Linked DNA regions of Homo sapiens. The protein of the gene in region 3 interacts with the protein of the main gene of each other region in a biochemical or structural test. Each region holds a gene or a part of one and is shown on either strand. Other genes may lie near its edges.

Evidence for each region.
Region 1: of the proteins of MAPK1 (region 3) and HIF1A, one has a biochemical effect on the other in vitro, tested with the Homo sapiens proteins (3 studies listed by BioGRID).
Region 2: of the proteins of MAPK1 (region 3) and ESR1, one has a biochemical effect on the other in vitro, tested with the Homo sapiens proteins (3 studies listed by BioGRID, with this or other methods).
Region 4: of the proteins of MAPK1 (region 3) and SMAD1, one has a biochemical effect on the other in vitro, tested with the Homo sapiens proteins (3 studies listed by BioGRID).

What each region holds. Positions count from the first base shown.
Region 1 is NC_000014.9:61,726,103-61,734,264, reverse strand, and holds part of HIF1A (hypoxia-inducible factor 1-alpha), read right to left. Parts: intron 7,560-8,162; coding exon 7,447-7,559; intron 6,813-7,446; coding exon 6,610-6,812; intron 1,848-6,609; coding exon 1,741-1,847; intron 128-1,740; coding exon 1-127.
Region 2 is NC_000006.12:151,943,084-151,951,245, reverse strand, and holds part of ESR1 (estrogen receptor), read right to left. Parts: intron 7,074-8,162; coding exon 6,738-7,073; intron 1-6,737.
Region 3 is NC_000022.11:21,758,740-21,766,901, reverse strand, and holds the end of MAPK1 (mitogen-activated protein kinase 1), read left to right. Parts: intron 1-2,661; 3' UTR 2,662-7,245; downstream 7,246-8,162. UniProt on the Homo sapiens protein: Serine/threonine kinase which acts as an essential component of the MAP kinase signal transduction pathway. MAPK1/ERK2 and MAPK3/ERK1 are the 2 MAPKs which play an important role in the MAPK/ERK cascade.
Region 4 is NC_000004.12:145,477,670-145,485,654, forward strand, and holds the start of SMAD1 (mothers against decapentaplegic homolog 1), read left to right. Parts: upstream 1-4,183; 5' UTR 4,184-4,369; intron 4,370-4,664; exon of another isoform or gene 4,665-5,507; intron 5,508-5,556; exon of another isoform or gene 5,557-7,095; intron 7,096-7,985. UniProt on the Homo sapiens protein: Transcriptional modulator that plays a role in various cellular processes, including embryonic development, cell differentiation, and tissue homeostasis.

The DNA.
Region 1 (8,162 bases), on a different chromosome or scaffold from region 3:
ACAATGCACTGTGGTTGAGAATTCTTGGTGTTATATATGACAGTTGCTTGAGTTTCAACCCAGACATATCCACCTCTTTTGGCAAGCATCCTGTACTGTCCTGTGGTGACTTGTCCTTTAGTAAACACTAGGGGGGAAAAGAAAAAGAATCATGCAGAGAAAATATTTTAACTTTGAATTTTCAATTAAATGAACAGATGCTGAATGTTCATCATTGTTTTGGAAAACAAATGTTTATTTAGTGGAATCAGTTGTAACTGCTTACATTCTGACAGTGCGTCCCAGAATAGCTGAAAATGTACCCATTTCCTTTTTCAAACCCCCTAAATAAAACTCCTTTGCTGCCAGTGAGCTAAGTGAAGAGTTCATGAATATACAATCTTCAGTAACTAAAATTCCTTTAATGACTTAGGTTGGTGTCAGATTAGAGAATAATCAATAGCCTTTTTCAAGAAAATGGTGCCACAATAACTTCCTTAAATTCTGACTATGGTTTCCAGAGAACCAAAGATGCTTTAAAAAGCTATATGTAGCATATTTAAATATAAATTGATACCACATTGTAAGTCTTTTGGCAATTTAAATTAAATACTGATTTGGGAGAAAGTACTAAATAAATGCTAATGATGGTATTATTTTGAGGATTGGGGTGTCCTGACTGCAGACTTGGATTTACTCTTGAGTTCAAGGCTGATCAGTCACACAAACTCAGTGATATTCAGGTATCCTCAAGCACAGTGGGAAGTCATGCATAGGTACAGATTAAACAGGTGAGATAGTCCAAAGTTTAACTTATCTTGGGGATCTTAACATTCATTTGAGTAAAATTCAGAATCAAATCTTATGTCAAAGGTACTTGTTTTGGGTGACTATAGTAAAAAATAATTTAATTGTACATTTTAAAGAAACTAAAAGAGGCCGGGTGCCAAGGCAGGTGGATAACCTGAGGTCAGGAGTTCGAGACCAGCCTGGCCAACATGGCAAAACCCTGTCTATACTAAAAATACAAAAATTAGCCAGGCATGGTGGTACATGCTTATAATCCCAGCTACTTGGGAGGATGAGGCAGGAGAATCTCTTGAACCCGGTAGGCGGGGGTTGCAGTGAGCTGAGATTGCTCCACTGCACTCCAGCCTGGGCGAGAGTGAGATCCTGTCTCAAAAGAAAAAAATAAAATAAAATAAAATAAAAATAACCAAAAGAGTATAACTGGATTGTTTGTCACACAAGATAATGCTTGAGGTGATAGGTACTCCATTTATCCTTATGCACTGCATGCCTATATCAAAATATTTCATGAACCCATAAATATAAATACCTAACTATGCACTTATAAGCATTTTTTAAAATGGTACTTATTACCAAAGGTGATGTTCACCACCTTCACATTCATTGATTGTACAAATACTTTCTGAGTGCCTTTTACATACCAACCACTGTTCTGAGTATTTATGTGAATTCTGAAAATTATGCTATTCAATACTCTATAATATTTGGATTTTCAAAAGTCTTTGTATTTAAAATGCCAGGAAGTTTTTTCTATGATTAAATGATTCTATTTTTACTGATATTTGTTGCAACACATACAAAACACAAAATGGTCAAGATCTCTACTGAATAGGCCTGTTAACACATTTAGTCTAGAACTTTTAACCAGAGAATTAGATGGGTAGCCAAACTGTACAGAGGTTGCAACAGTTAAGTAATTAGAATATCTCTGAGTTCTTCCATTGTACTTACTATCATGATGAGTTTTGGTCAGATGATCAGAGTCCAAAGCATGATAATATTCATAAATTGAGCGGCCTAAAAGTTCTTCTGGCTCATATCCCATCAATTCGGTAATTCTGTTAGTAAAAAATACAAGATTTAAGAAAAAAAAGGGAGACACTGATAAAGAAAAATTTTTCTCCTCCCAAGTTAACTGATAGGCATTAATCTTATGGACAAGTGAATTTTCAAAAATGAGCATCCTCCTTTGCTTAGAATAAATTTACACCTCACCTTTGGCAACTACAGTTATTAAATCCAACACCACACATTTCTTTAAGTCCTCTAGATTCCTCCTGTTATTTAACTCTTTAATCCTGTTCACCCAAACTTGTTACCTGGTCTTTTTTTTTGAGACAAGAGTTTCCCTCGTGTTGCTCAGGCTGGAGAGCACAATGAGGTGTGATCTTGGCTCACCGCAACCTCCACCTCCTAGGTTCAAGCGATTCCCCTGCCTCAGCCTCCCAAGTAGCTGGGATTACAGGCATGTGCCACCATGCCCAGCTAATTTTGTATTTTTAGTAGGGATGGGGTTTCTCCATGTTGGTCAGGCTCGTCTTGAACTCCTGAACTCAGGTAATTCACCCGCCTTGGCCTCCCAAAGTACTGGGATTACAGGCATGAGCCAACGTGCCCAGCCTACTTGTTACCTATTCTTATTACATCTCATTATACATACTTTTGGTAACAAGGCAGGGTATTAATAAACAGATAAGAAATACTACTAAACTACATGGTAAAAGTTATAAAGGTAGTCACTTACACTTATTTTAAAATATAGATAAAATCTGTAACATTTCTTCATAAAGCCAAATTCTTTATGTAGTAACTTTTAAGCCCCTAGGCAACACCTCACTTTGAGAGATCAATAGCCATTACACAATTCTAATATCATCAACCAAAGAGCATCTACACTAAATGGGAACTAAAGGAATTATGTTGGTTTTTGAAGATGCTCTTGTACTTAGTTTAGTTTTTGGCATTACATGAAATTATGGGAGTAATTTCAGATAAAACAATATTTCAAATGAAAATAGATTGGAAAACAATCCAATTACCCTATCTAGCTCGCTGGCAGAGAGTAGACCTTTATTTAAGACAGAGACTAGATCTTATTCTCTGTAAGCAGTATGAAATGGCAACCATGACATGAGGAAGAGAAAGCTGTCTTCTTAGTACCATGCTGAACAGAAATACTCTCTTCTCAAGTCTTTCTAGGAGCAAAACATGAGTTAAGCTTTTAGATTCTCAGCCTTTAGATTTCAGAGGACTTTCCTACCGAGGTGCAAGCAAACCTTATATAACATGCTGTGTGTCAAAAAAAAAACCCTACCTAACTACAGGAAGGACATAGGCAAGATATTCTATAAAGGTATAAAAGTAACATTGCTTGTGTTCTCACACTTAAAGGCAAGATCTTCCATAGTTTATTACAAAATAAATATACAAAGGAAAAGCTGATTTGCCAAAAACCAAACCAAACTCAACTCAAACCCTCAATTCTTTACAAAGGGACATCTCTAAACACAGCAACACCAGGTGGCAGCATTATAAAGGAAAACATGTTTTTAAACAAAATCAGTCATATTTCTTGAAATTATGCTTTAAAAATAATTCTAATTGGTCTTATATTTTTCTGTTTAAATAAAATCCCCATGGAATTAAAAACTTTTTCACTATTCAAATCTTAATATGCCTATGTGTGCCCGGCATTATTCTAGGCATGAAAATGCAAAGACAAAACTCAATACGTGGCTAATCTTCCAGTAGATGTACTGTACTACTTAGGAAATAATGTGATAAATGCAGTGATGAGAATCTATTCCATGGAATCCTATCCATGCAAAGGAATGGTAGAATGAGGAACAGCCTCTTATAGGAGACTTATGACTAGAGACAAAGGAAAGGCAAAACCGCTTTCAGGAAAAAGGTATGGTATAAACAAAAGATTTTTAAAAATGCTTAACATGGTGCAGGTAACAAAGATTCTATAATATGATTAGTGGAGACAGATATGAGATGATGCTGAAGAAGTAGGTAGGGGGATCAGATTAATGAAGGTATTGTTTATATTGTCATAGGAAGCTCTGATTTAATCTAATGTCAATCAGTGCTTCTCAATCTGAGGTATGTCTATCACTAAAAGATACCAAGAAGTCAAAAATATAAACTGTATATGCTTTCCTAGAAGGTCAGTTTTACACATATTAGAGCAAGAAAAGTGAGGTTAATTTAACTTTAGAGAATTACATAGGTTATATTCTATACCAAAAGGGTCGGGGTGTCCAGAAAATATGACCAAAAAGTGTTTTTAATGGACTAGGAAACCCATGATCTAAAGCAGTATACTACTCATTTATTTTGAGGCAGGAACTGTTCATCTTCATTTCTACTTTAGTGCCATGAACATAGTAGATGCTCAAATAAAGTGTTGAATAATTTTAAATGATTATTACTCAGTATAGTAAATAGCAGCTATTTGTGGAATATTTTGGAGTTGAGGAGCTTGATATGTTAGATTTTCTTAAAATTGAGCAAAATTTTTTCCATAGCTTGGTTCTCAGGGGTTATAGATGCAAGAAGTTCCTGGAAAGAGCTCTAAACCAGAAAATAACAGTCTGCTGGTCAAACTCAAAACTGTCTTGGTTGATATATGAGCTGGCTGTCTTTACTGTTACCTCCTGTCATGATCATTTTGCTAATTTTCTGCTATAACTAGAGGGGAATGTCACTCCCTTTCTCATTTTTGCTCCACTACCTTCCTTTCTCCCTGGCCTCCTCTCTACTTTGTTACCTTAAGTTTTCAAAAAAATAAAAAATAATTCCTCAAAATAGGATGGAAATCTCTGTCCCATCATACATTTACATGCTAGTAGTAAACACCTTAAAATAATTCTTAGCTTTTCTATATTCATTTTCTTAAAGTTGACACCAGTAGTGAAGCATTCACTATCTGTACTAGGCACTCAATGGACTCCTTTAATCCTGACAACATCCTTCTGAGGTCTTTTTTTTGTTTTGTTTTTGTTTTTTGAGATGGAGTCTCACTCCGTCTCCCAGGCCGGAGTGCAGTGGTGCAAGCTTGGTTCACTGCAACCTCCGCCTCCTGGATTCAAGCAATTCTCCTACCTCAGCCTCCCAAGTAGCTGGGATTACGGACATGTGCCCCCATACCCAGCTAATTTTTGTATTTTTAGTAGAGATGGGGTTTTACCATGTTGGCCAGGCTGGTTTCAAACTCCTGACCTCAGGTGATCCACCCACCTCGGCCTCCCACAGTGCTAGGATTATAGGCATGAGCCACCCCACCCAGCCATGATTCTTATTTTATAGATAAGGAATGTGAATTTTACAACAGTTAAGTACCAAGGCCAAGGCCACATTGTAAGTATCAGAGCTGCAAGCCATGAGTGAATCTAACATCTGATTCCAAAGACAGAGTTAGGGCCAGAGCATAAATATCTTTGTTTGCCATGCTAAGTTTAGATTGTATTGTGTAGGTCTATTTTTTTTCAGTCTTCTAAAATACACATCTTCTTTTGATAAATGAAAAATTTACTTCCCTCATCTAGTATTTTTATAAACAAAATATTTTTGTGTGCAAAGATGGAGGGAAGCATTTGAGGCATTTTCAACAACAGAATGACATGATCTGATTTTCACATTAGGACACCCACTTTCTGGCAACTTAGATGAAAGATTATAAGGGTACAAATCTGTTGGCAAAAAGGCAGCTATGCCAACAACTCAAGTCAAGAGTAATAATGAGCTAATGAATTCAATGGCAGGAGTGCAAGGATGGAAAGGAGGAAATGGATCAAGAGATATATGTAGATAGTAAATCTGTAAGATTTAGACACCAACTGTATGTAGCCAATGAATGTAAAAGAAAAGTTACAGATGACTTCCAAAGTTTTGCTGGAGTCATGTGTGTATGGTGGTGTATTAAACCACAATAAGCATTATAGGAAGAAAGGCAGTTTTTGATGATGATGTTGTTTGGGGGCAGTAGTAGTACAGTTGTTACAGTAATACTTAGTTTACAATACAGAAGAATATCCAGATAGAAATATTAAGTTGGCAATTAAATAGAATTAGTTACAGGAAGAAATGTGGGAAATAGTAATAGAAACCATGGGCAAGGTTGAAGCTTCTCAGGGAAAATATGTAGGATGAAGAGATGTACAAACACTTGGCTTTCTAGTCCCCAACCTAAGGTAATCTATCTTTGCTCAAAATACACACTGCATATCTTTGAAATTCTCTAAGTAAGTAGAGCCCCTATTGGGGAAAAAAAGACTCATCTTAACTTCTGGATAGCACCTAGTAAAGTAAGTGTTCATAGTACAGAGTAAATGTTCAATAAATGTGGCTGAATTAATTTACAAAGTTAATCTAATATTATAGGATGTATCATTCTGTTCAATTTAGTGGAAAGTATAGTTTAACATTGAGTAATTTTTTTTTTTTTTTTTGAAATGGGAGTCTTGCTCTGTCATCCAGGCTTGCAGTGTGGTGGTGTGAGCTCAGCTCACCACAACATCCACCTCCCAGGTTCAAGCGATTCTCCTGCCTCAGCCTCCTGAGTAGTGCCTGCCACCACGTCCCACTAATTTTTGTATTTTTTAGTAGAGATGGGGTTTCACCACATTGGCCAGGCTGGTCTCAATCTCCTGACCTCAGATGATCCACCCCCCGCTTGCCTCAGCCTTCCAAAGTGCTGGGATTACAGGTGTGAGCCACCATGCATGGCCAGCGCTGAATCTTTGCTATGGTGAATATTCAGTAATGCTGTAGACTAATTAAAAATTTCAAATTCACATTTTAGATCTAATTTACCTTTCATCACAATAAGAAAATTTCATATCCAGGCTGTGTCGACTGAGGAAAGTCTTGCTATCTAAAGGAATTTCAATATTTGATGGGTGAGGAATGGGTTCACAAATCAGCACCAAGCAGGTCATAGGTGGTTTCTTATACCCACACTGAGGTTGGTTACTGTTGGTATCATATACGTGAATGTGGCCTGTGCAGTGCAATACCTGTGTATGAAGAACAAAGCAGTTAAAAAAAATATTTACAATGCTAGGGAAAAAAAAAGCAGAGATAAGTAGTTGAGTCTGACATGGCCAGTAAGCTTTGATAAAATTTACTGTCACTAGTGGATTAATCACGTTTTTGAAAATCAATGAACATTTTTCCTATGATACCACCTATGACCTACTTCCTGCCCAGGGCCTATACATTACTCTTTAAAAAATTCCCCTCGTATAAAGTCTAGGCTGCTTTTTCATTCATCTCATCATCATGGCTGTTTGATAGTTATTTCTTGCACTGATGACTATGTTTCAACATTGAACAAAGATATAAAACCATGATTAATAGAAAATTAAGCCCTATCAGGATTCAAATATTGTGTGGCTGGCAAAGCCAACTGATTAAGCCTGGAACACCAGTGCCACAATTCACGTAATTTAAGTTTGTGCCTCAAATTGGCAAATTACTACACGGTTCTGCATTTTGGAGATCACATGCAAATGAGTTGAAGATATAAATGTTACATAACCAAACACCATGGAACTGTAAACCTTCCCTCACAATTCTAAAGTTATCTTAATACTACAATGTCTATGTATAAATAAAGTGTATAATCAATCACAAATAATTTTCACTTACCTTCCATGTTGCAGACTTTATGTTCATAGTTCTTCCTCGGCTAGTTAGGGTACACTTCATTCTGAGAAAAAAGCTTCGCTGTGTGTTTTGTTCTTTACCCTTTTTCACAAGGCCTAATGAAAGCATGAAATAAAGTTTTAAAGCAACTAAATATACAAATTTGTTACAATAAAAGTAACAAAGTGCCCATCACCTAGATCAACTGAATACCCGTTCAATTAAGTCTCAGCATGAACACAGTAATTCATTCCCCTTTTACTCACTCCAGCACACCCAAGAGATCTGACACACACTACTCAGTAGCTGTGATTCCCTGAGTTGGCTGAAAGATAATCCATATTTGGGATAACAGTTAATCATTGAAGCCAGTAAGCTTAGTCAAATACACAGAAATATAAAAATGGTATGAGTTTGCTCTTTAACTGTGCTATCGGTACACAAGAATCCCTAAAGAAAGAACTTCAGCAAACTCTTCCTATCCTTTCCTGAATGTGTTAGCTCAATTTCTAATAAGCACTCTATGTCTTTATAGAACCTTTAAAATAACAACTTTCTTTTTAATAACAAATAACATTTTTACGTATCTTATTTTTTTCCCCTTAATTTATCTAGTAAAGCAGGCAGAAAATTACTTCTACTTTGTTACTATGAGAAAACAACAACAACAGATCAAATGACTTATCAAAAGTTACAGAAATAGGCAGGGCACGGTGGCT
Region 2 (8,162 bases), on a different chromosome or scaffold from region 3:
CATTGGAGCCCCAGCTCACACAGCATACCAGGATGAATTCAAATGCATCAAAGATGCAAAAAAAGGATAAACTACTAAAGTACCAGAGGAAAACATTATTCTGAAGGGTAAAATCTTTTACAAGGTATTTATGAGGTAGATGCATGAAACTGTTAACAATTATAAATTAACTTCTGATGTGTAAACTCTTACAATTATAAATCAACTTCTAAGCCTGTTCAGTGAACTACTTGGGCAGGCAGAAGAGAAATATACAAGAGTAAATGATTAGCCAAGTCTATACTAGATGAGCCAAACCTTCCTCCTTAAATCAATAGCTCCTTATTTCTTTTGCCTCAAAAATACAATAGAAGAAAATTCTATTTTTAATACACTTTGTATTAATTTCCTAGGGCTCCCATACAAAGTATCAAAAACTAGGTGGCTTCAAAAACAACAGAAATGTACGCCTCACAGTTCTGGAGGCTAGAAGTCTGAAATCAAGGCCATACTCTCTCTGAGGGGGAGAGTCCACTCTTGCCCCTTCTAGTTTCCGATGTTAGCCAGTAAACCTTGGCATTTCTCAGCTTGCAGACCCAGCACTCCAGTCACATGACCGTCCTCTTCCTGTGTCTCTTCATATCATCTTCTTCTGTGCATGTCTGTTTCTATGTCTAAATTTCCCCTTTCATTAGAATGCCAGTCCTTATTGGATTAGGGCTTGTGCTAATGACTTCACTTGAAGTTGATTACCTATATAAAGGCACTATTTCCAAAGAAGGTCAGATTCTGAGATACTGGGGGTTAGGACTTTAACATGTCTTTTTGAGGAGAGACAACTCAGCCCATAACACACTTCAATCATAATCTATCTATTACTTAAAACACACATTCTCCATGCCAAATCCCCCTGGAAGTAGCAAAGCCACAGGCCAACATTCCCCACAGGGTGCCCTGGGGACACCACAAGTCCACTACGTTCAACATAAACACACACTGACCCAGACTCACTGTATTAGTCTGTTTTCACACTGCTCATAAAGACACATCCCAGAGTAGGCAATTTACAAAAGAAAGAGGCTTAATGGACTTACAGTTCCATTGTGGCTGGGGAGGCCTCACAATCATGGCAGAAGGTGGAAGGCACATCTCACATGGTGGCAGACAAGAGAAGAAGAGCTTGTGCAGAAAAACTCCCCTTTTTAACACCATCAGATCTCTTGAGACTTACTCACTATCACAGGAACATGGGAAAGACCTGCTCCCATGATTCAACTACCTGCCATGGGTCTCTCCTACAACAGATGGGAATTCAAGATGAAATTTGGGTGGGGACACAGGCAAACCATATCACTCACTGACACAGAACCTGGAGGAGGGTGGGCAAAATGCCCCAGACATGTTTCTCAAATACTCTCAAGATGAGAAAGGGATTTTTAAAGGTTTAATAGCATCCAGGCCAATAAGCATCTATGAGGCTTCAAAGTTTCATGTGAAAGAAAAATCCAGTCAACAGCAGCTGCTTTCCTTGCGTTTCACCAGAGCTTCCACGGGAGCAGTAGAAAGCTGGGTGGGGTGACTTGGACATGGAACACTTGCAAAAAAGCTGCATATTGCCAGTCCAGAGGGGCTGCCATCATGCCTGCTAGGGCGATTCCAGCCCAATCCTAAGGCTCTTATTATACAGTGGGTGCAAAATCTAAATGGCAAATCTTGTCCTTAAACAGAGGCTTCTGTCATCTCTCCAGGATGTCACCCATATGTCCATGTCATGTTATCTTTCATTACCTTGCCAAAGCATGCTGGACACCACAACAGTTTGAGAGCAGGGTTTACTGGTCCAATGACAGGTTGGGAAGCAGAGTGCTGGGAAGCCCTGCTAAATCTCTGAAATCTACAGGAACCTCCCAGAATTGAGTGTGTTCCTTGTAGATGCTCCCAATTCCCAGACTGAGGTATTACACCTTCTCCGGGAACCCTCATCCCTACCCACTTTAAGTTTCCAATTTCATTCGCTAAGTGAAACTCACTTGCAGATAGAGTTGAAGCCTGCTAAAGTCCTCAGAGCGCATGGCTCCATATTTCTCTAGCTGTTTCTCTGTCCCTTACAAAAGAGAGATTGGAAATGGAAATAGAATCTCACTATGGTGGCTGTCAGGGAGATATCAGAACAGCAGGTAGATTTTGAGGAGAGGAAAAAGGAGAAATGTCACAGCCTTAGAGAGCAGTTCTAGTTTATGGGAAAATTGAGCTGTAACAGGGCTCAGAGACTTCTTAAAATTAAGACTTTCAAAAATCACCTTTCATTTGTTCATTTATTCATTTATTCAAGCACTTCCTGAGCTCAAATCTGCTCATTTTAATGATGAGGATGAGGATGAGAGGCAGAGAAGTGAATTCCTGGATTCCTGGGGAATACAGACACAGAAGAGGCCTTGAGCCCTGGAATAACTCACACAACCATGCATCCTCGAGACAACACAGAAACTTCCAAGAAATCTGAACTTGGGGCTGGTGGGAGACATGTCCAGAAAGAGGAGATTGCCTACCCCTGGGGCCAAAACTGAGCAAGGAGGCAACCTGAAGTAAATGACAGGGAGTCAGGACTGAGGAGGAAGAGGGGCCTTCTAGAGTGTTGATTAGAGGGGGACTCGGCAGGAAAGGGGAAGGAGAAGGTCGTCTAGTTTGCCACTAAAAGAATGAGGAAGTGGTTAAGGTGACATGTTTCACAGGAAGCCAAGCTGCCACTGAACTGCCCCTTTTCCTCTTTTCCTCTTCCTGGGCCAACACTCTGAGTGCACTCTCCCAGATCTGTGCCCAGCAGCAGTTCATGAGGCTGCTACACTTTGGGTTATAAGTATTTAACAGGCAATAAAAAACTCAGGGCTAGATATCTATCCAAATCTTCATAAAATATATAGAACTATAGCACAGACTTGAAGTATAAAATTGCTTTCGAGACATGTAAAATTATGGTGAATTTTGGAAAGGGCTTAACTTTCAATAAATCAAAATGACACTTTGGTGACACAATTCAAGCTTCTGGGGAAAAAAACTCAGATGTATTTCATTAACACTGAAACTAAGAATGAACCACTCAATGATGCAATTGAGTGTGATGCTGAAATCAAAAATACAACCACTCTTGCAGTCATATTTTTTCCTTTTTAACCTTCAGCTCAATGATATTACATTTATTGACTAGTTTCACCATGTGTAAAATAATAGTAAATTAAGATTTAATTATCTACTTTTAAAAAAACTGAATTTCTACCCAGGGATAAGGCTATAAAATTCCTATTAAATATAAACAAATTTCAGAGCAAACAATAAGGAGAAAAGTCTTCTCGATAGATAAATATCAAAAAGTAGATACATAGTATGTGTTATAAAAAAAACATCTTTTGTCAGAGCTGGCTTCATAGGTTTTATCATTCTTGTTGCTACTGTTGTTTTTAAACTGCAAAGAGAAAAAAAATCATTTCTTAAGGTCATCTTTATCCAGGTCTACCAGAAGTACTTTATGGATTGGAACTTGACTCTCACACTTGTATGATGCATTCTATCCCAAAGCTCTTCACATCTTAATTCTGAGTAGAGAAACATATCAAGTCAAAAAATAAGCCCCAGGGGTTAATGAAAAGGAAAATTCAACTTATAATCATCAACATTTGAAAATTCTGACAATATTCTGTTAATTAAAAGAAAGAAGAAAGAAGCACTTCTAGAGCTACTAAGCCCAAAGTATTGACTATTTTTGTTAAAAATTCATCATTCAAAATGAAGTCAATTCATAGTTTTTGTTATATTGATAGGTATTCTGAGGATTATCCAAATGTTTCATGAGGGTTTTTGTATCATATAGCTAATTCTGGGTATTTCTAGAACTGAAATTTTGCTATTCTTCTTACTAATGACATTTACTATTTCCTTCTTTATTTATTTATTTAGAGACAGAGTCTCATTGTTGCCCAGGCCGGAGTGCAGTTGTGGGGTCTCGGCTCACTGCAGTCTCTGCCTCCCAGGTTCAAGCAATTCTCCCACCTCAACATCCCAAGTACCTGGGACTATGGATGTGTGCCACCAAGCCTGGCTAATTTTTGTACTGTTTTGTAGAGACAGGGTTTTGTCATGTTGGCCAGGCTGGTCTTGAACTCCTGACCTCAGGTGATCCACCCGCCTCGGCCTCCCAAAGTGCTGGGATTACAGGCATGAGCCACTGTGCCCGGCTTATTTCCTCTTTTAAAACTTACTATTATTATTGTCATTCTCAAACTATTATCTCATAAACGTTATATTGTCTATATCAGATATTCAGTGTGGGCTATGTTTTTTAAATAACAGATGGTATTTGAATATATAAAAGATATAAATCCTTTTCAAAATGTTGCTTTGTCTATTTTTCTGAAAAGTTTGACAACCATCTGTAGAGCTTTTGCAGAAGACTTTTTTCTTCCCTCACTTTTAGTCTCTTTAAAATCAATGACTATTTTTATTCTGCTTGGTCAGGCAAGTAGGCCTTTGATTTACAACAGCTGTATTCCCATGGAACACACACAAACACACATACATATAATTTCATTTTTGCCTTTATAATTCTTTTTTTTAATTATCAAGTAAGAAGACATAGTTTATTGGTCTAAGGATTTTGGAATCATTCAGGTCTTTTAAACGAACATGATGAAGTTACAGAGTGGTTTTGTTACACATCTCATTGCCATAATTTTGTCTAGCTCTGGCTTTAATAATTGTATTTTAACTATTGCTAGCCTGTGTATAATATTTTCCTTTCCTTGACTTCTCCATTTTATTCCTAAATTCAGAAGATTATTGATGTGAATTCTTCAACCACTGGTAATGTATTTGAGCTTAATTCCAGTTGTTTAAAATGCTCTTCAACATTATTATAAAAATGTCATGATGGGAATCTACTGATACACATGAAAATGTCTGTACTTGAGTTCAGCAGTGCTCCAGAGCTAATATTCCCAAGATTTCATAAGGGAAAATATATGTTTACAGGAAAATAAAACTGAACAGCAACCAAGAGTTGGCTCTCAAATATATGACCATTAGTTTCTTTGCTTGTTTGTTTGTTTCTCTTTCCCTATAATATAAGAACAAGGCAATAACAAATATAAAGAAAAAACTTACAGCCATATTACAATTAGATTCCAACAATTAACTTATAATGTATCTGCTTCATATGAAAATGCTAAAATATGTAGGTACTCAAGAAAACTTTTCATTCTGAAGATGACCAGAAATTTTTGTTTGCCAGTTCGACTGACACTGAAAACCTACATTTGCCTATTATTCTCCATGCTTCCATGTAAACTAATAACCACTCAACCACCAAAATGGTGGCCTCTAACAAGGCTGGGTTCTGGTACTGCTGGCTCCTTATTCTACGGCCCACATGTTTATATACTGATAGATGCAAATACATGTAAGATTCTCTAAGGCCAGACATAAGTTCACTTGGCCTATAACAGAGCAGTGACCCTTGAAATGCAAGTACAAACTCCACATTTTTTTAGTTTCATATAAAACATTTCATGCTTCATAGGAAACAATTAATTTCATCTATTAAAAGAAACCAAATGAGAAAACCTCCAACTAAATCTATCACTCATTTAACCTATAAGCCCAGAAAAAAAATTTAGCTTCTTCTTGCCTCGGTTTATCTACATTAGCTCCTGAACGAATACACTGGGGCAGGGAGAAAGTCATTTTCTAGTCTTGTTGCCATACAAACTTGAGTTCTTCTCCCTGAATAACAGGAGTAACAGTCCAATTTTACCAGAACACCAGTTCTGAGAGAATCAACTGAAGGAACAAGGTATCACTTCAGCCACTGTGTCTTTCTAAAAGTTTCTTTCAGGGATGATACCTTAATTTATTTTTCCATTGCCTTTCTCTTTCTCCTAAAACACTAAGCATACACCAGGTTGGATAAATAATTGGCATTCAGTAAATACACTTATTATTATCTTTTTAATCCATAAAGATCTTTCTCTTTTTTTGTGTGGTTTATTTTTTATGACACGGTCTTGCTCTGTCACCTGGGCTGGAGTGCAGTGGCACTCCACACAAACATGGTTCACTGTAGCTTTGACCTCCTGGACTCAAGCCATCCTCTCACCTCGGCCTCCCCCATAACTGGGACCACAGGTGTGTGCCACTGCATCCAGCTAATTTTTAAAAATTTGTTGTAGAGACAGGGTTTCGCCACGTTGCCCCGGATGGCCTCAAGCTCCTGGGCTCAAGCAATCCTCCCACCTCAGCCCCAAAAAGTGCTAGGATTACAGGCACGAGCCACCACACCGAATCTTAAAAATCTTTTTAAGATAAAATCGTTTGATTAATAATTGAGATGTTTTCAACAAAGGTCATTAATATTACAAACTTTTGTAGTTCATTTAGTGTTAAAAGTTTCTGCTACTGTGAACATACACTATTAAATAGTTTTACCATGTAGTGTCCACCCTAAATCTTTTTGGTAAATGAGATGGGTTAAAAATAAATTATGTCAATTTAAGAATTTCAGTCTTCTAGATTCTGATTTAAAAATATTATTTCCTAATCTCCTGGAAAATTACAGTGTATTGATACTGAAAATGAACACATCTCCTGTAACCTTGAAACCAATTACATAACATGTTATTGCTTCTTTTTCCCCCACTATTTCTCCCATGACATCACAACAAGTTCTTGAAAAGCTATTGACTCTTAAAAGCTGCGCTTCGCATTCTTACCTGGCACCCTCTTCGCCCAGTTGATCATGTGAACCAGCTCCCTGTCTGCCAGGTTGGTCAGTAAGCCCATCATCGAAGCTTCACTGAAGGGTCTGGTAGGATCATACTCGGAATAGAGTATCGGGGGCTCAGCATCCAACAAGGCACTGACCATCTGGTCGGCCGTCAGGGACAAGGCCAGGCTGTTCTTCTTAGAGCGTTTGATCATGAGCGGGCTTGGCCAAAGGTTGGCAGCTCTCATGTCTCCAGCAGACCCCACTTCACCCCTGCCCTCCCCATCATCTCTCTGGCGCTTGTGTTTCAACATTCTCCCTCCTCTTCGGTCTTTTCGTATCCCTGAAAACACAGGTGGAAAAAAAAATTAGTTTATTTTTTTCCCGTGTAAACTTTTATACAAAAAATTTTCAAAGCTAACCAGCTTTCATTTTATTTGAAGAAATACTTTCAAGCACAGGTGAGCTGGTAAGTGTTCAACAAGTGGCTCTCCAAGAGAAGAAGAAAAAGATTTCTATTTGTAGCAGTTTTCATGGTGTAAATACTACCACCATAACATGCCAATTTTCATGGTGTAAATACCACCACCATAACAAACTTCAGGCCACTTGTCTGACATCAAATGGCTTACAAAACTCCTGAAAATTGAACAGTAGGCTTTGGTGAGCCCATACAAACTGATTCCGACACACTAGGTAGGGGTGTGTGTGTAACAGGTGTTATAAAAAGAACAGAATTCTAATTTTAGTTATTCTTAAAATAGAATTTAGCATCCAAGACTACTTCTGCTAGGAATATTCTTTTAATAGTAAATTAAAAGGGCATTTTTAAAAGCATTTAGTCCAAGTAGACTTCTTAATGGGCAAGACTAAATAAGAATGACTTGCTCATAAGGTATATTACAGCCTCTGGCCCCCTGGGGTGCTAAGTCCTTCACTGTTACTAACCTGCTCCTCATCACCCTAGGATTGCCCCAAGTCCCTCAAGTCATTTACTGGATTTTAAGCTTTTCACAAATGTATTTGTTTTTTCCTAACATAAAAGTTGTAAAATTCTAAAAAGAGTTTGTTTTATTTGATAATTTCCCCCCAAAGGTGGTTTTTTTTTTGTTTTTGTTTTTTTTTGTTTTTTTTTTAAGATGGAGTCTCGCTGTGTCACCCAGGCTGGAGTGCAGTGGCGGGATCTCGGCCCACTGCAAGCCCCGCCTCCCAGGTTCACGCCATTCTCCTGCCTCAGCCTCCTGAGTAGCTGGGACTACAGGCACCTGCCACCATGCCCGGCTAATTTTTTGTATTTTTAGTAGAGACGGGGTTTCGCCGTGTTAGCCAGGATGGTCTCGATTTCCTGACCTTGTGATCTGCCTGCCTCGGCCTCCCAAAGTGCTGGGATTATAGGCATGAGCCACAGTGCCCGGCCCCCCACAAAGGTTTA
Region 3 (8,162 bases):
CTTTCACAGTCATTTTCCCTCAGCCAGGTGGTGGCTTGTGAGCATCTCATCTCTGTCGCTTCAGGTCAGGCGGCAGTGCTGCCTGCTTAGTCTGCATTAGACACTAACAGCAAACGCGGCAAGCAGGACCTAAACACAGCCTCAGAGGGGCCCATGTAGTAGGGGAGAAAGACACACACACACACAACTGTGCACATTTTTAGTATAAAAGAGCTTCTGGGGTTGACGTGATAATTTGTTTTTCATCATTTAATCAGCATTGAGCACTTCCTTTCGCCAGTTAGGAAAGGAACAAAGATGAATAAAACCCAGGTTTTGCTTTCCAGCAGCCTCATAGCAGGAAATGTAAACAACAAGGAGTATACAGAGTCCCAGAGATGGACACAGGCATGGTGGGTCCCAGAGAGTAAGGCAGACATTAAAGCCTCACAGAGTGTGGCCGACTCGCGGCAGTTGTGCTGCAGCTGAAACCTGACAGTTGGGTTCTTTGCTGGTTGGGGAGGGGCACAGCTGTGTGGACCCTGGAAGGCGGGCATGCCAGACAGCTGGGCAAGAGGGGGGCTGCAGAGAAAGAGGCCAGCCCAGGCTGTGGCCCTTGCTTCCCCAGGAGGCCAGCTCTCCCTCACAGGTAGCTGCCTGACCTGAAGCAGTGGCTCAGGTGACTCTGGTGGCAGTAAGGATGCAGGAGGACCTCTGAGAGCAGGGACTTGGGGGAAAACTGGTCAGGCCACTGAAGAGACAGGCAGCACCGCAGGCACAAGGATGGCAAGACAGAGGCAGGGTTGCTCCTGAGGCCACAGGGCGCAGTTGCTGGCAGAACGCCTCCTGAAGCCAGCTTTGCAAGGCGGGGGACCAGTATCCCTCTCAGGTCCACCACCACTCTGAGAGTCCCGGCGTGGCAAGGACAGTCACCTCTGTGCGTTGTTCATTTGCTCCAGACACAGAAGACACACAGATGCTCCCTATGTGCTTATAGCATGATTTTTTTTCCCAACATTCTTTTAGTGACAGTTTTCAACTATTCTGAAAAGTTGAAGGAATTTAAAGTAGACACCCATATTCCCACCACCTAGATTATACAGTTAACATTAACATCTTACTTGTTTTCTCATAGATCTGTCCATCTGTTCCTCTATCCACCCATCAACCCATCGCATTTTATCCATTCATTGCAAAGGACGTTGCCAACGTCTAGACTGACTTACAATTTAGTCATCTAGAATATCACATGAATCCAGGGGAAGCTGGGGCTGGGTTGGCTGATTAAACTATGGGATAGGTTCTTTCATAAACATTTCATTTTGGTGATCACAACAGAATTTTGGGAAGTCAGCATGCATCCATGTTTATAATTGAGGAAACTGAAGACAGGAGCCTTTGAGCACTTCGCTCAAAATTGTACATCAAGTGGCAAAACTAGGCAGAGAATCCAGGTATTTTGGACCCAGAATGTCATTTTCTTGAAATGTTTGCCAGCATGAAACAGTGGCAGGCTGCACACTGCCTGTGATTAGCCTTGCTCCTTGGGAAAGTTCTCAGGACTCATTCACAATACTAAGGAGCATTGTCTCTGAGTTCCCAGCCCACACACTGGAGATCAGGAGCTCTGAATTGGAGAGCTCAGGAGGTAAAGGTGTAATAAAACATGGGAACACTGGGAGGGCACGGTTGACCGTTTGGCTGCAGCAAGAAAGGCTTAGAAACATACACCCCAGGACCACAGAGCACAGCTGTGGGGCCCCTTTGGTAGAGGAAGCAATGAAGTGATATTTGTAGTGGTGGCCGAAAGGTCTTAAAAAAGGGTCAAATTATATTCATTGTATTTTGCTTAAGGGGGTCAGTTTTAGAAATGTTTCCATGGGCAAGTTTAAAAGCTGATCATGCCTACTACCTGTGACAAGCCTCATTCCTACCCAGCCCATGTCCTCAGTCTCCTACCCTGTGAGGCGGGTGAAGGTAGAGGTCAGTGCTCAACTTCCTTCTTCATCTGCCTGATTGTGAATTTTCTCAGGTGGATTGATCACTAGGGGCATGAACCGCATTTCCCTTTGGTTTATTGAAGATGAAAGCATTTTAGGGCAGCTTTAATTTCCTGCCAACCCGTAGGTTTGGCTGCAGTTCACCTCTACATAAAAGAGACCACTTCTCCCTCTTAGCCCATCTCCAAGTCCACAGTTTGGCTATAGTTAGCCCATTCTTCTTGCCCCACCTCCTGAGTGGCAGATGGAAACCACAGCTCTGAAAGTGCTCTGTGAAATAGTAAGTGATACTCTGCTAGATTTTCATGCACTAGTGTTGGATATCTTACGGTAAATAAAGGACATCTTAGGAACACTGCAGTCAGCGTAGGCTGGGGGAGTGGCGTCTTTCCTATGAGTGTTGTGGAAACCACCTCAGAACTGTCTGAGAGGAGGTGCCTGTGGAGTGAGGGCTGACCCTGGCCCCTTCAGAACTGCCATGTGTTATCCTTGCCCAAATGTGTCCAAAGAAATGGCCATTTTGCAGGAGTCTTTTTTCCCTTTTCTGTTTTCATAATGCTATTGCTGCTGCTGCTGTTTTAATGTGGTTCACTGTTGTCACTTTTGTGTTTTGTGATGCTGATGATGATGCTGTTTTCACATGGCTCACTCTTAACTCAGTGGTCTGTTTGTGTTTCTATAGGACAAGGGCTCAGAGGACTGGACGTGCTCAGACATCGGTGTTCTTCTTCCCAGTTCTTGACCCCTGGTCCTGTCTCCAGCCCGTCTTGGCTTATCCACTTTGACTCCTTTGAGCCGTTTGGAGGGGCGGTTTCTGGTAGTTGTGGCTTTTATGCTTTCAAAGAATTTCTTCAGTCCAGAGAATTCCTCCTGGCAGCCCTGTGTGTGTCACCCATTGGTGACCTGCGGCAGTATGTACTTCAGTGCACCTACTGCTTACTGTTGCTTTAGTCACTAATTGCTTTCTGGTTTGAAAGATGCAGTGGTTCCTCCCTCTCCTGAATCCTTTTCTACATGATGCCCTGCTGACCATGCAGCCGCACCAGAGAGAGATTCTTCCCCAATTGGCTCTAGTCACTGGCATCTCACTTTATGATAGGGAAGGCTACTACCTAGGGCACTTTAAGTCAGTGACAGCCCCTTATTTGCACTTCACCTTTTGACCATAACTGTTTCCCCAGAGCAGGAGCTTGTGGAAATACCTTGGCTGATGTTGCAGCCTGCAGCAAGTGCTTCCGTCTCCGGAATCCTTGGGGAGCACTTGTCCACGTCTTTTCTCATATCATGGTAGTCACTAACATATATAAGGTATGTGCTATTGGCCCAGCTTTTAGAAAATGCAGTCATTTTTCTAAATAAAAAGGAAGTACTGCACCCAGCAGTGTCACTCTGTAGTTACTGTGGTCACTTGTACCATATAGAGGTGTAACACTTGTCAAGAAGCGTTATGTGCAGTACTTAATGTTTGTAAGACTTACAAAAAAAGATTTAAAGTGGCAGCTTCACTCGACATTTGGTGAGAGAAGTACAAAGGTTGCAGTGCTGAGCTGTGGGCGGTTTCTGGGGATGTCCCAGGGTGGAACTCCACATGCTGGTGCATATACGCCCTTGAGCTACTTCAAATGTGGGTGTTTCAGTAACCACGTTCCATGCCTGAGGATTTAGCAGAGAGGAACACTGCGTCTTTAAATGAGAAAGTATACAATTCTTTTTCCTTCTACAGCATGTCAGCATCTCAAGTTCATTTTTCAACCTACAGTATAACAATTTGTAATAAAGCCTCCAGGAGCTCATGACGTGAAGCACTGTTCTGTCCTCAAGTACTCAAATATTTCTGATACTGCTGAGTCAGACTGTCAGAAAAAGCTAGCACTAACTCGTGTTTGGAGCTCTATCCATATTTTACTGATCTCTTTAAGTATTTGTTCCTGCCACTGTGTACTGTGGAGTTGACTCGGTGTTCTGTCCCAGTGCGGTGCCTCCTCTTGACTTCCCCACTGCTCTCTGTGGTGAGAAATTTGCCTTGTTCAATAATTACTGTACCCTCGCATGACTGTTACAGCTTTCTGTGCAGAGATGACTGTCCAAGTGCCACATGCCTACGATTGAAATGAAAACTCTATTGTTACCTCTGAGTTGTGTTCCACGGAAAATGCTATCCAGCAGATCATTTAGGAAAAATAATTCTATTTTTAGCTTTTCATTTCTCAGCTGTCCTTTTTTCTTGTTTGATTTTTGACAGCAATGGAGAATGGGTTATATAAAGACTGCCTGCTAATATGAACAGAAATGCATTTGTAATTCATGAAAATAAATGTACATCTTCTATCTTCACATTCATGTTAAGATTCAGTGTTGCTTTCCTCTGGATCAGCGTGTCTGAATGGACAGTCAGGTTCAGGTTGTGCTGAACACAGAAATGCTCACAGGCCTCACTTTGCCGCCCAGGCACTGGCCCAGCACTTGGATTTACATAAGATGAGTTAGAAAGGTACTTCTGTAGGGTCCTTTTTACCTCTGCTCGGCAGAGAATCGATGCTGTCATGTTCCTTTATTCACAATCTTAGGTCTCAAATATTCTGTCAAACCCTAACAAAGAAGCCCCGACATCTCAGGTTGGATTCCCTGGTTCTCTCTAAAGAGGGCCTGCCCTTGTGCCCCAGAGGTGCTGCTGGGCACAGCCAAGAGTTGGGAAGGGCCGCCCCACAGTACGCAGTCCTCACCACCCAGCCCAGGGTGCTCACGCTCACCACTCCTGTGGCTGAGGAAGGATAGCTGGCTCATCCTCGGAAAACAGACCCACATCTCTATTCTTGCCCTGAAATACGCGCTTTTCACTTGCGTGCTCAGAGCTGCCGTCTGAAGGTCCACACAGCATTGACGGGACACAGAAATGTGACTGTTACCGGATAACACTGATTAGTCAGTTTTCATTTATAAAAAAGCATTGACAGTTTTATTACTCTTGTTTCTTTTTAAATGGAAAGTTACTATTATAAGGTTAATTTGGAGTCCTCTTCTAAATAGAAAACCATATCCTTGGCTACTAACATCTGGAGACTGTGAGCTCCTTCCCATTCCCCTTCCTGGTACTGTGGAGTCAGATTGGCATGAAACCACTAACTTCATTCTAGAATCATTGTAGCCATAAGTTGTGTGCTTTTTATTAATCATGCCAAACATAATGTAACTGGGCAGAGAATGGTCCTAACCAAGGTACCTATGAAAAGCGCTAGCTATCATGTGTAGTAGATGCATCATTTTGGCTCTTCTTACATTTGTAAAAATGTACAGATTAGGTCATCTTAATTCATATTAGTGACACGGAACAGCACCTCCACTATTTGTATGTTCAAATAAGCTTTCAGACTAATAGCTTTTTTGGTGTCTAAAATGTAAGCAAAAAATTCCTGCTGAAACATTCCAGTCCTTTCATTTAGTATAAAAGAAATACTGAACAAGCCAGTGGGATGGAATTGAAAGAACTAATCATGAGGACTCTGTCCTGACACAGGTCCTCAAAGCTAGCAGAGATACGCAGACATTGTGGCATCTGGGTAGAAGAATACTGTATTGTGTGTGCAGTGCACAGTGTGTGGTGTGTGCACACTCATTCCTTCTGCTCTTGGGCACAGGCAGTGGGTGTAGAGGTAACCAGTAGCTTTGAGAAGCTACATGTAGCTCACCAGTGGTTTTCTCTAAGGAATCACAAAAGTAAACTACCCAACCACATGCCACGTAATATTTCAGCCATTCAGAGGAAACTGTTTTCTCTTTATTTGCTTATATGTTAATATGGTTTTTAAATTGGTAACTTTTATATAGTATGGTAACAGTATGTTAATACACACATACATACGCACACATGCTTTGGGTCCTTCCATAATACTTTTATATTTGTAAATCAATGTTTTGGAGCAATCCCAAGTTTAAGGGAAATATTTTTGTAAATGTAATGGTTTTGAAAATCTGAGCAATCCTTTTGCTTATACATTTTTAAAGCATTTGTGCTTTAAAATTGTTATGCTGGTGTTTGAAACATGATACTCCTGTGGTGCAGATGAGAAGCTATAACAGTGAATATGTGGTTTCTCTTACGTCATCCACCTTGACATGATGGGTCAGAAACAAATGGAAATCCAGAGCAAGTCCTCCAGGGTTGCACCAGGTTTACCTAAAGCTTGTTGCCTTTTCTTGTGCTGTTTATGCGTGTAGAGCACTCAAGAAAGTTCTGAAACTGCTTTGTATCTGCTTTGTACTGTTGGTGCCTTCTTGGTATTGTACCCCAAAATTCTGCATAGATTATTTAGTATAATGGTAAGTTAAAAAATGTTAAAGGAAGATTTTATTAAGAATCTGAATGTTTATTCATTATATTGTTACAATTTAACATTAACATTTATTTGTGGTATTTGTGATTTGGTTAATCTGTATAAAAATTGTAAGTAGAAAGGTTTATATTTCATCTTAATTCTTTTGATGTTGTAAACGTACTTTTTAAAAGATGGATTATTTGAATGTTTATGGCACCTGACTTGTAAAAAAAAAAAACTACAAAAAAATCCTTAGAATCATTAAATTGTGTCCCTGTATTACCAAAATAACACAGCACCGTGCATGTATAGTTTAATTGCAGTTTCATCTGTGAAAACGTGAAATTGTCTAGTCCTTCGTTATGTTCCCCAGATGTCTTCCAGATTTGCTCTGCATGTGGTAACTTGTGTTAGGGCTGTGAGCTGTTCCTCGAGTTGAATGGGGATGTCAGTGCTCCTAGGGTTCTCCAGGTGGTTCTTCAGACCTTCACCTGTGGGGGGGGGGGTAGGCGGTGCCCACGCCCATCTCCTCATCCTCCTGAACTTCTGCAACCCCACTGCTGGGCAGACATCCTGGGCAACCCCTTTTTTCAGAGCAAGAAGTCATAAAGATAGGATTTCTTGGACATTTGGTTCTTATCAATATTGGGCATTATGTAATGACTTATTTACAAAACAAAGATACTGGAAAATGTTTTGGATGTGGTGTTATGGAAAGAGCACAGGCCTTGGACCCATCCAGCTGGGTTCAGAACTACCCCCTGCTTATAACTGCGGCTGGCTGTGGGCCAGTCATTCTGCGTCTCTGCTTTCTTCCTCTGCTTCAGACTGTCAGCTGTAAAGTGGAAGCAATATTACTTGCCTTGTATATGGTAAAGATTATAAAAATACATTTCAACTGTTCAGCATAGTACTTCAAAGCAAGTACTCAGTAAATAGCAAGTCTTTTTAAATGCTGCTTTATTTCACTAAATTTTGTTGTGAGGTGTCACTAAAATGCCTGCAAACAAACGTAACTGCTAATCTGAGAGGAAACCCTCTTACTAATCAGAGAAGAAACCCTCCTGTCAGAAACCTTCAGGGAAGTGAGCTGATCACACCTAAACTGGGAGTTTGCAATGGGGTATTTGAAGCACTGTGGGAGTATTCCACTGGCCCTCTCCCTGAGAGACTTAACAGTCTTCCCTGTTGTCCAGATTCTGTATAAGGCAATCAGAATAATCATCTTCCTTGTTCAGCAGAGGAGCCTGGTCCCATTTTCCCCACTTTGTGATGGGCTTCTCTCAGCGGTAGCTCAGCAGTTCCAGATGGCAGTTTGGACCAGCATCTAGGCTGGCCAGTTCGCTGTGTTTACTTAGAACCAACACGTTCAGAGCTGGCCTGGACCATCTGAGGGGAACAGGAAACACCCCTAGGCTGTGGAAGCAAGTGCAGACCCCCACCCCCGGCCCTGAAGCCAAGGGGGCAGGGTTTGGGAGTGGCCAAAGAGAAGCAGTGCAGGGATGGGTTTTCCTAGGGACAGGCTTAGCATTCCTGACTCTAGGAAGAAGGAGCAGTGAGGCGGAGAAACAGTGGAGGGGATGGTGGCATTGGGCCCCATGGGGCCGAGATGGACACAGGGCTCGTTCTCTTGAGTCTGGTGCCAAGGACAGCTGAAGACGACATCATTTTCAGGTGGAGAGGAGAGAGTGGAGGGAGATCATGCCCTGTGATGTGTCTTTTGCAGGTGAAGGTGGGAGACAAGGTCTCTGCTGACGATGAGGCAGAGCCACCGTGAAAGTTGTAATAGGAGGACTGCCCGCCGCTGGAAGGGCCTGCAGTGACGCTAGGACACCCTCTGCCTGCATGTCACGTTAGCTGGGCTGGGCGA
Region 4 (7,985 bases), on a different chromosome or scaffold from region 3:
GCTAAATAATACGGAGACATTTGAGTGAAGACTTGAGGGAGATGAAGGAGTGAGCCATGTGGACATCTGTGGGAAGAGCTGTCCAGGGAGTGCTATGGTTTGAATGCATTCCCCAAAGTTTATATATTGTAAACTTAATCCCCAGCGCAACAGTGTTGAGAGGTGAGAACTTCAAGAGGTGATTATGTCATGAGGACTGTTAAATTAAGTTTAGGCTAAAGCTGCCTCCATATATATATATATACGTATATATACATATGTACATATGTATATACATATATATACACACACATATATATATATATATATATATTTTTTTTTTTTTTTTTTTGAGACGGAGTTTTGCTCTTGTTGCCCAGGCTGGAGTACAATGGCATGATATTGGCTCACCGCAACCTCCGCTTGCCGGGTTCAACTGATTCTCCTGCCTCAGTCTCCCGAGTAGCTGGGATTACAGGCGTGAGCTACCACGCCCGGCCCATACATATTTTAAGTTAGGCCTAAAGGTTTCTCTGTACACAGCAAACTGTAACCTAACTGGATATGCAAACAGACTGTAGCCAACTCTTGTACCAATCACAGAGTTTTGGTCAATCACAGGCAGCCAACTGTTCAAACTGTGTTAAAATAAAGCAAATATTTAGCTCTAACCAATCCAGTTTTTTCTGTACCTCACTCCATTTTCTGTCACTTTTCTTTCTCTGCCCATAAACATCATCTGACCCTGTGGCAGCCCCAGAGTTGCTCTGAAACTATTCTGGTTCTGGGGGCTGCTCAGTTCTCAAATTGCTCTTTGCTCAATTAAACTCTGTTAAATTTAATTTGCCTAAAGTTTTTCTTTTAACAGGGATCTGTCCTCATGAATGGATTAATGGCATTATGGGAGTGCGGTTTGGTATCTCAGGAGGGGATTGCTGATATAAGCATGAGTTTGGCCCTTTTCTACCCTTCCTCTCATGTTCTCTCTCTTGCTATGTGATGCCTTCTGCTATGTTGTGATGAAGGAAGAAGGCCCTCACCAGATGCAGCCCCTTGATTTTGGATTTCTCAGCCCCCAGAACCATGAGCTAAATTAACTTTTATTGTGTATAAACTGCCCAGCTGGTGGTTGTATTGGTCCATTTTCATACTGCTATGAAGAAATACCCAAGACTGGGTAATTTATAAAGAAAACGTGGTTTAGGGCTGGGTACGGTGGCTCACGCCTGTAATCCCAGCACTTTGAGAGGCCAAGGCAGGTGGATCACCTGAGCTCAGGAGTTTGAGACCAGCCTGGCTAACACCACAAAACCCCGTCTCTACTAAAAAATACAAAAAAAGATTAGCCAGGCGTGGTGGTGCATGCCTGTAGTCCTAGCTACTTGGGAGGCCAAGGCAGGAGAATTGCTTGAACCCTGGAGGCAGAGGTTGCAGTGAGCTGAGGTTGCATCACTGCATTCCAGCCTGGGTGACAGAGTGAGATTCTGTCTCAAAAAAAAAAGGTTTAATGGACTCACAGTTTTACACGGCTGGGGAAGCCTCACAATCATGGCAGAAGGTGAAGGAGGAGCAAAGGCACATCTTACGTGGCAGCAGGCAAGAGGGCGTGTGCAGGGAAACTGCCCTTTATAAAACCGTCAGATTCTCATGAGACTTATTCACAATCACGAGAACAGCATGGGAAGAACCCACCCCCATGATTCGATTACCTCCCACCAGGTCCCTTCTATGACACATGGAGGTTATGGGAGCTACAATTCAAGATGAGATTTGGGTGGGGATACATAGCCAAACTCTATCAGTGGTATTCTATTACAGCAACACAAAATGAACTCAGAAAGGGAGGGAACAGCTAGCACATAGATACTGAGGTGAGAATGTGCCCAGATTGTTCCAGAAGAGTGAGGATGCCAGTGTGACTTGGGGAAGTGAGCAAGAGGAAGAGTAGAAGTGCAGGTCAGAGTGCTAAAGGAGGGGAAGGAAAGATTATGTAGAGTCTTGTGCTTATTATGGGAACTTTTATTCTGAGTGAAATGAGGACCCAAGGGAGGATTTTTTAAAAATTTAATAAAATGATATTAATATACAGTCCATATTTAGGTTTTTATAATGGTCTCATCAATGTCCTTTTAAAAAGAATATCCAAATTTTTATTATCATTTAAGGAAATAATTTGCACAATGGGCAAAATCAAATTTTATTGCATACATAATAATATTAATAGTTATCATTTAAGACTACTAGGACTGCACTAAGAAAGGCCATCTAGGCTGGGCGCGGTGGGTCATGCCTGTAATCCCAGAACTTTGAGAGGCTGAGACGGGTGGATCACTTGAGGCCAGGAGTTTGAGACCAGCCTGGCCAAAATGGTGAAACCCCGTCTCTACTTAGATGGGCGTGGTGGTGTGTATCTGTAGTCCCAGCTACTCGAGAGGTTGAGGCAAGAGAATTGCTTGAACCCGGGAGGCAGAGGTTGCAGTAAGCCGAGATCGTGCCATTGCACTCCAGCCTGGGCGACCGAGCGAGACTCCGTCTCAAAATTAAATAAATGCCATTTTTGATTTTTTTAAAAATTAACGACTTTAAAATGACAGTTTATAGCTCCTCCTCCCCATTCAGGATCCAATCAAGGTCATATACTGCATTTCATTGTCATGCTTTTTTTTTAATAGCTTGAGGTAAAATTCACATACCAAATGATTGACCCATTTAAAGTGTGCAATTTAATGGCTTTTGGTATATGCACAGAGTTGTGCAACCATCACCAGAAACTAGTTTTAGAACAATTTTGTCACCCCATAACCTTTAGCTGTCACTCCCCAGGTTCCTCATTTCCCCAACCCTATGCAAACCACCAATCTACTTTCTGTCTCCATAGCCTTGCCTACTCTGAGCATTTCACATATGTGGAAGAATACAATGTGTGGTCTGTCTTCTTTCCCTTCACGTTTTGAAAGGTTATCCATGTAGCATGCATCAGTATCAGTACTTCATTCCTTTTTATGGCTGAATAATGTTCTCTTGTATGGGATACTTTATACTATTTATCAAGGGAGGGTTTTCAACAGAGGAGTGGCCTGATCCGAGTGGCATTTAACAAGGTTCACTTTCCTGTTGTTCTAAGGAGCAGAGAATGATCAACTGCGTCAAACGCTGCTTTTAGGGAAAATAAGATGAGGCCCACGAATTGACCAGTAAGTGCTCAAATAGGTTAAGGGAAAAAGGAATTTAATTAGAAGACATATTCTGATATACATTGCTGGGAGTGATTTTTTTTTTTTTTTTTTTGCTTCATGTGAAATTTATTCCTCAAAAAAAAATCATTTTTTCTAAACGTAACTCAACATTATAGTAATTATGCAAGATTTTATGCAGCTTCAAGAGTTAGCCAAGAGAAAAGTTGACTCTTGCAAGAAGATATTTTCAATGTCTATGCAGATCAGGTAGGTAAGAGTTAAGTGCGGGGGAGTTGGCATCATCTAAAAGACTGTAGAAATTGGACCAAAAATGTGGAGTTCTAAAGCAGTATCTCCTTATGGCATGCCATTATTTGGAGCAACAAGGTTACCTACTCGAATCACTGGATCCTGAGTTGACACAAAACGCATCTGTTGACTCAGGGTTTGTATAACCACGTGCAGTATTTACTAGGCTATCCAATTCTGGGTACGTACAACTTCTGGGGCCTGCAAATTATTGGAGAGTGAGTGAGGGGCAACGAAAGATAGACATAAAAGGGCGCGTCTCGAAAGGTAACTGTCAACATGCACTCCACGTTTATAGAACGATTCAGTGGGCGCGGTGGAAGCGTTAATGAACATTTCAGAAAATAAACATATGGAACATCGAAATTCACTTGCAGATAATGGACTAAGTCCGCTCCACCGGGACTAAAAAGGCAGGGTTAGGAAAGCCTGAACGCCGCCACACTGTTTTTTCTCCAGGAAGAAACGGGGCGTGGGGCTGCCGGTAGAAGGGGGTGGCTCCGGCCGCTCCCCCGCGCCGTCCTCCGGCCCCGGCCGCGCTGCGCTCACGCCGGCCGGGCCGGGAATTTGGAGAGGATCCCTGGTCGCGCGGCAGCGGCGGCGGCGCGCGGGTGAGCGGGTGAGCGTGTGAGCGGGCGGGCGGGCAGGCGAGTGCGCCGGGTATTGGCAGCTGAGGAGTGGAGGCTGGGCAGCTCCGACTCCCTGACGCCAGCGCGACCAGATCAATCCAGGCTCCAGGAGAAAGCAGGCGGGCGGGCGGAGAAAGGAGAGGCCGAGCGGCTCAACCCGGGCCGAGGCTCGGGGAGCGGAGAGTGGCGCAGCGCCCGGCCGTCCGGACCCGGGCCGCGAGACCCCGCTCGCCCGGCCACTCGTGCTCCCACACGGACGGGCGCGCCGCCAACCCGGTAAAACGAAACAGACCCGAACCGAACTTTCCCTTCATGCCGCGTCCCAGCCCTCCCCTCGGCGCCCCGGGCTTTCCAGCGCCGCCGCCGCCGTCTCTGCACGCGTGGGGCCGCCGCGGTCGTGCTGGGCTGGGGGCGCGGGCAGCGGCGGGAAGGGGGCTCTTTCTGCGCGGGGCGGGCCGCGACCCCCCCCCCCCATGATGGCGCCTCCCGTCTGCTCGGAGGAGCGAACCTGCTACCACGTCTTCTCGCGCCCAGCCCGCCGGGCTCCCCTGGTGTCTTTGTTGGGTCTTCTGCTGTGGGAAGCCCAGTTCCCGGGCCCCCGAGCCTCGGCTCCCGGGCCTGACCGCGCTGGGATCTCCCCGGCCGCGCTCCCCTTCCGCGCGCTCCTCACATCTCTCCCGTGCTGCCGCCGGGCCGAGGCCCGTTCGCGTGGCCCGCGGACCCATTGTGTCCCCCGCGCCGGCGGGGCGACCCCTGCGGGAGCTGGAGGACGACCGCTGGCGCTGCTCTCCAAGGCGCCTGGTGGAGCGGGTCTCGCGGGCGGGGGACCCCGGCGCCCCGGGCCCCTCCACATCCCGCACGGGTTTTCTTCTCGGCCCCAGCAAGCCTCTTTGGGGTCGAGGTCAAGGAAAGTTCGCACCGAGATCCCCTCTAATTTATTCAAAGGTTTGGCGGCGGCGCGTAATTTTTTCCCCCTCTTCCGCCTACACCCGCTGCGTCTCCTGGTGTCTCGTTCCTTTCCCTTTACCGGAGTCGATTGCCTCACTGCATGTGTATTCGTGAGTTCGCGGTTGAACAACTGTTCCTTTACTCTGCTCCCTGTCTTTGTTAGTGTTTCTCGGGGTTGTTTCTGTAGGAAGGTGGGGGTGGTGGGCGTGAGAGACAGATGTGGGCTTGTTTTTCTAGTTGCTGAAACTGTATGAAGGCTTTAAAGGGAGAACGTTTTCTTGATGTGCTTTAGGAGGGGAGGAGGAACAAATGCCTGCCAGATCTCACAGCTACAGTAGCTGAGCTTTTGTTTATTTTGAAGAGCATGCAATTTTTAAATACACGGTGCAAGATAACCAGTAAAGGCGCGTTCCTTCTGAAAATTGAGGCCGGTCTCAGAACCATCTCCTGAGAAAGCATCCTTTTCGTGAGTGCTGAGACAACTGTCCTTTTTCTCTGCCCTCCCCCCTCTTTTCTTTCCATTGTATCTGAAGTTTCAAAGTACGTGGAATGATACAGAAGTTGCATGATTTCTGTTATTTCTTCCTGTTGCTGAAACTCTCAGCCGCTAAATCTCAGAATGCCTCTATTTCAGAACATCTCTGGGTCTAATTGCCTGTTGTGGATAACTTGCCCACACCTCAGTAACACAATGAGAAAACTGTTCCCTGCCCATGTTGATTTTTCAAATTGTTTGTAATTACTTTAAATTGTATTGAAGGTAGGTGGACCGTGTTAAAAAAGAATCGGAACAGAAGTGTTCACTGCCCCAGCATTTTCAATTGGTATAAATATTGTTGCATCAGTGTTATTCTGATGTAGGTGCCAGATCTAAATATGCTGTACTGATTAAAGTGTTTGTTCTGCCCTCTCCCACTCTCTTTCCCATTTGCAATTATTTGCTATTTCTGTGCAGGTGGTGTATCATTGGTGTAATACTGCAGTTCTTAGGAAGGTGTAGCTAGGGTCGTGAGAGATGATTTTTCTGGAGGTGGGTGATGCCAGAGCCTCTAGAGGATCCAGGCAGGATCGAGTTTCTTCTGAGGGTAGGGATTTGTCCTTGATTTAGTTTTGACCCCTACAACCATAGGTATGTAACCAAATACATTTTACCTCTTGCAGTATCCTTTGGTTTCGTATCCTTGAAGAGCTGATGACCTTTGTGTTTTAGAGAAATGACAATTTTTAGGCAATTAAAGACATTGGCCTCTTACACTTCTTGGAATTTTATGTTATTTTTACTAAGTTCATTAAGGCATTAAGAGGAAGTTGTCACATTTTCTCAACTACGTTTATTACATTTATTAGTTAAAAACTAAATTTCACTTTGTAATTTTGATTTCTAGCAATTCTGGGTTAAATATTAAATCTAATAACCTAGTAGATTGGAAAAAGAAGTAGCTTGGGTATAGTAATTAGACTAGCATGTTTAAGCTGCAGTAGCCTACATAATCAAGGCCAAGTGTGTGTGTATAAAAGATCTCATTTGTGTAGTCTTACAAGGCTAATGGAGGCATCACTGAGGCTTTATAAATAATGTAAGTTGGGTATAATGTAGAGTCTCCAGAGACGGCAGAGAAAGCATCATTACCAGCCTTTTCAACCTGCTTGAGATCTTAAATTGATTTACAGCACTGAACTGGTGCAAAATGATACATCAGGATGACATGGGGTCAGCCTGTAAAAGTCTATGATGTCAGCCTATTAGTTCAGTCATCATAATTAAACCATATTACAGGGGTAGCTAAGCAGGAGTCTGGCGTTATACTTCAGATATGGGTGGTACATGGGTTTTGTTTATAGTGGAAAGGCTGAGATGGCCAGGGATACCAGTGTGTGTGAAAGAGGGAAAAGGCTTACAGAACTATGAATTTCTGTAGAAAAATTTAAGATAAATGCAGAGATATTCAATCTGAATTGTATAAGTAGCTTTTCATTTGGTAGAGGAGAAACAGATGCTTTAGGGATGCTGATAAGGACCTTTGCAGCTCTGATATGTGTACTGAATGCTTCATGTGAGTTTGAATTTAACTTGGCCTTAGGGACCTTATAAAATATCAGTGGACCACATACTTAACTTTGATCCTTTTATTACCCCTGAATTTTCACTGTATTGATATCTACTGACATGTTATTTCTTTAACTAGTCAAACTTACCAGGCCTATACCAGAAACAAAGATATTTGAATTGAACATATAAACAGTTCAGGAAAAGAAGATCCTTATTTTGCTTAAGTTTCTGACAATCCTTATTTAGCTTATGGATTATCTAGGGCTCTGCTATCCTAGCCATAGTCACACGTAGCTTTTTTTGAAATTTTATTATTCTATTTTTTTGAGACAGGGTCTCTCTGTGTTACCCAGGCTGGAGTGCAGTGGCACGATCATGGCTCACTGCAGCCTCGACCTCCCAGGCCCAGGCAGTCCTCCCACTTCAGCCTCCCAAGTTGCTGGGACTACAGGCACTGCCACCATGTCTGCCTGACTAATTTGTTTTTGTATTTCTTGTAGAGACAGGGTTTCGTCATGTTGCCCAGGCTGGTCTTGAACTCCTGGGCTCAAGCTGTTCTCCCGCCTCGGCCTCCCAAAGTGTTGGGGTTACAGGTGTGAGCCACTGCACTCGGCTACTTATAGCTATTTAAGTTTAAATTAAAATTAAATAAAAATTCGTTTTCTCAGCAGTAGCCGCATTTCAAGTGCTTAGTAGCTGCTTGTGGTTAGTGGCTGCCATACTGGACAGCGTGTATATAGAATAGTTCCATCATCACAGGAGGTTCTGCTAGCCATTGCTGCCCCAGGACCTTTACCTCTTCTCACTTGTTAACTCTACTAATGATTTGTGGAGTCAAAGATGGAAAGACATATATAAACTAATTTTATCACTAACTAGCTGTTCTTTTTAAAA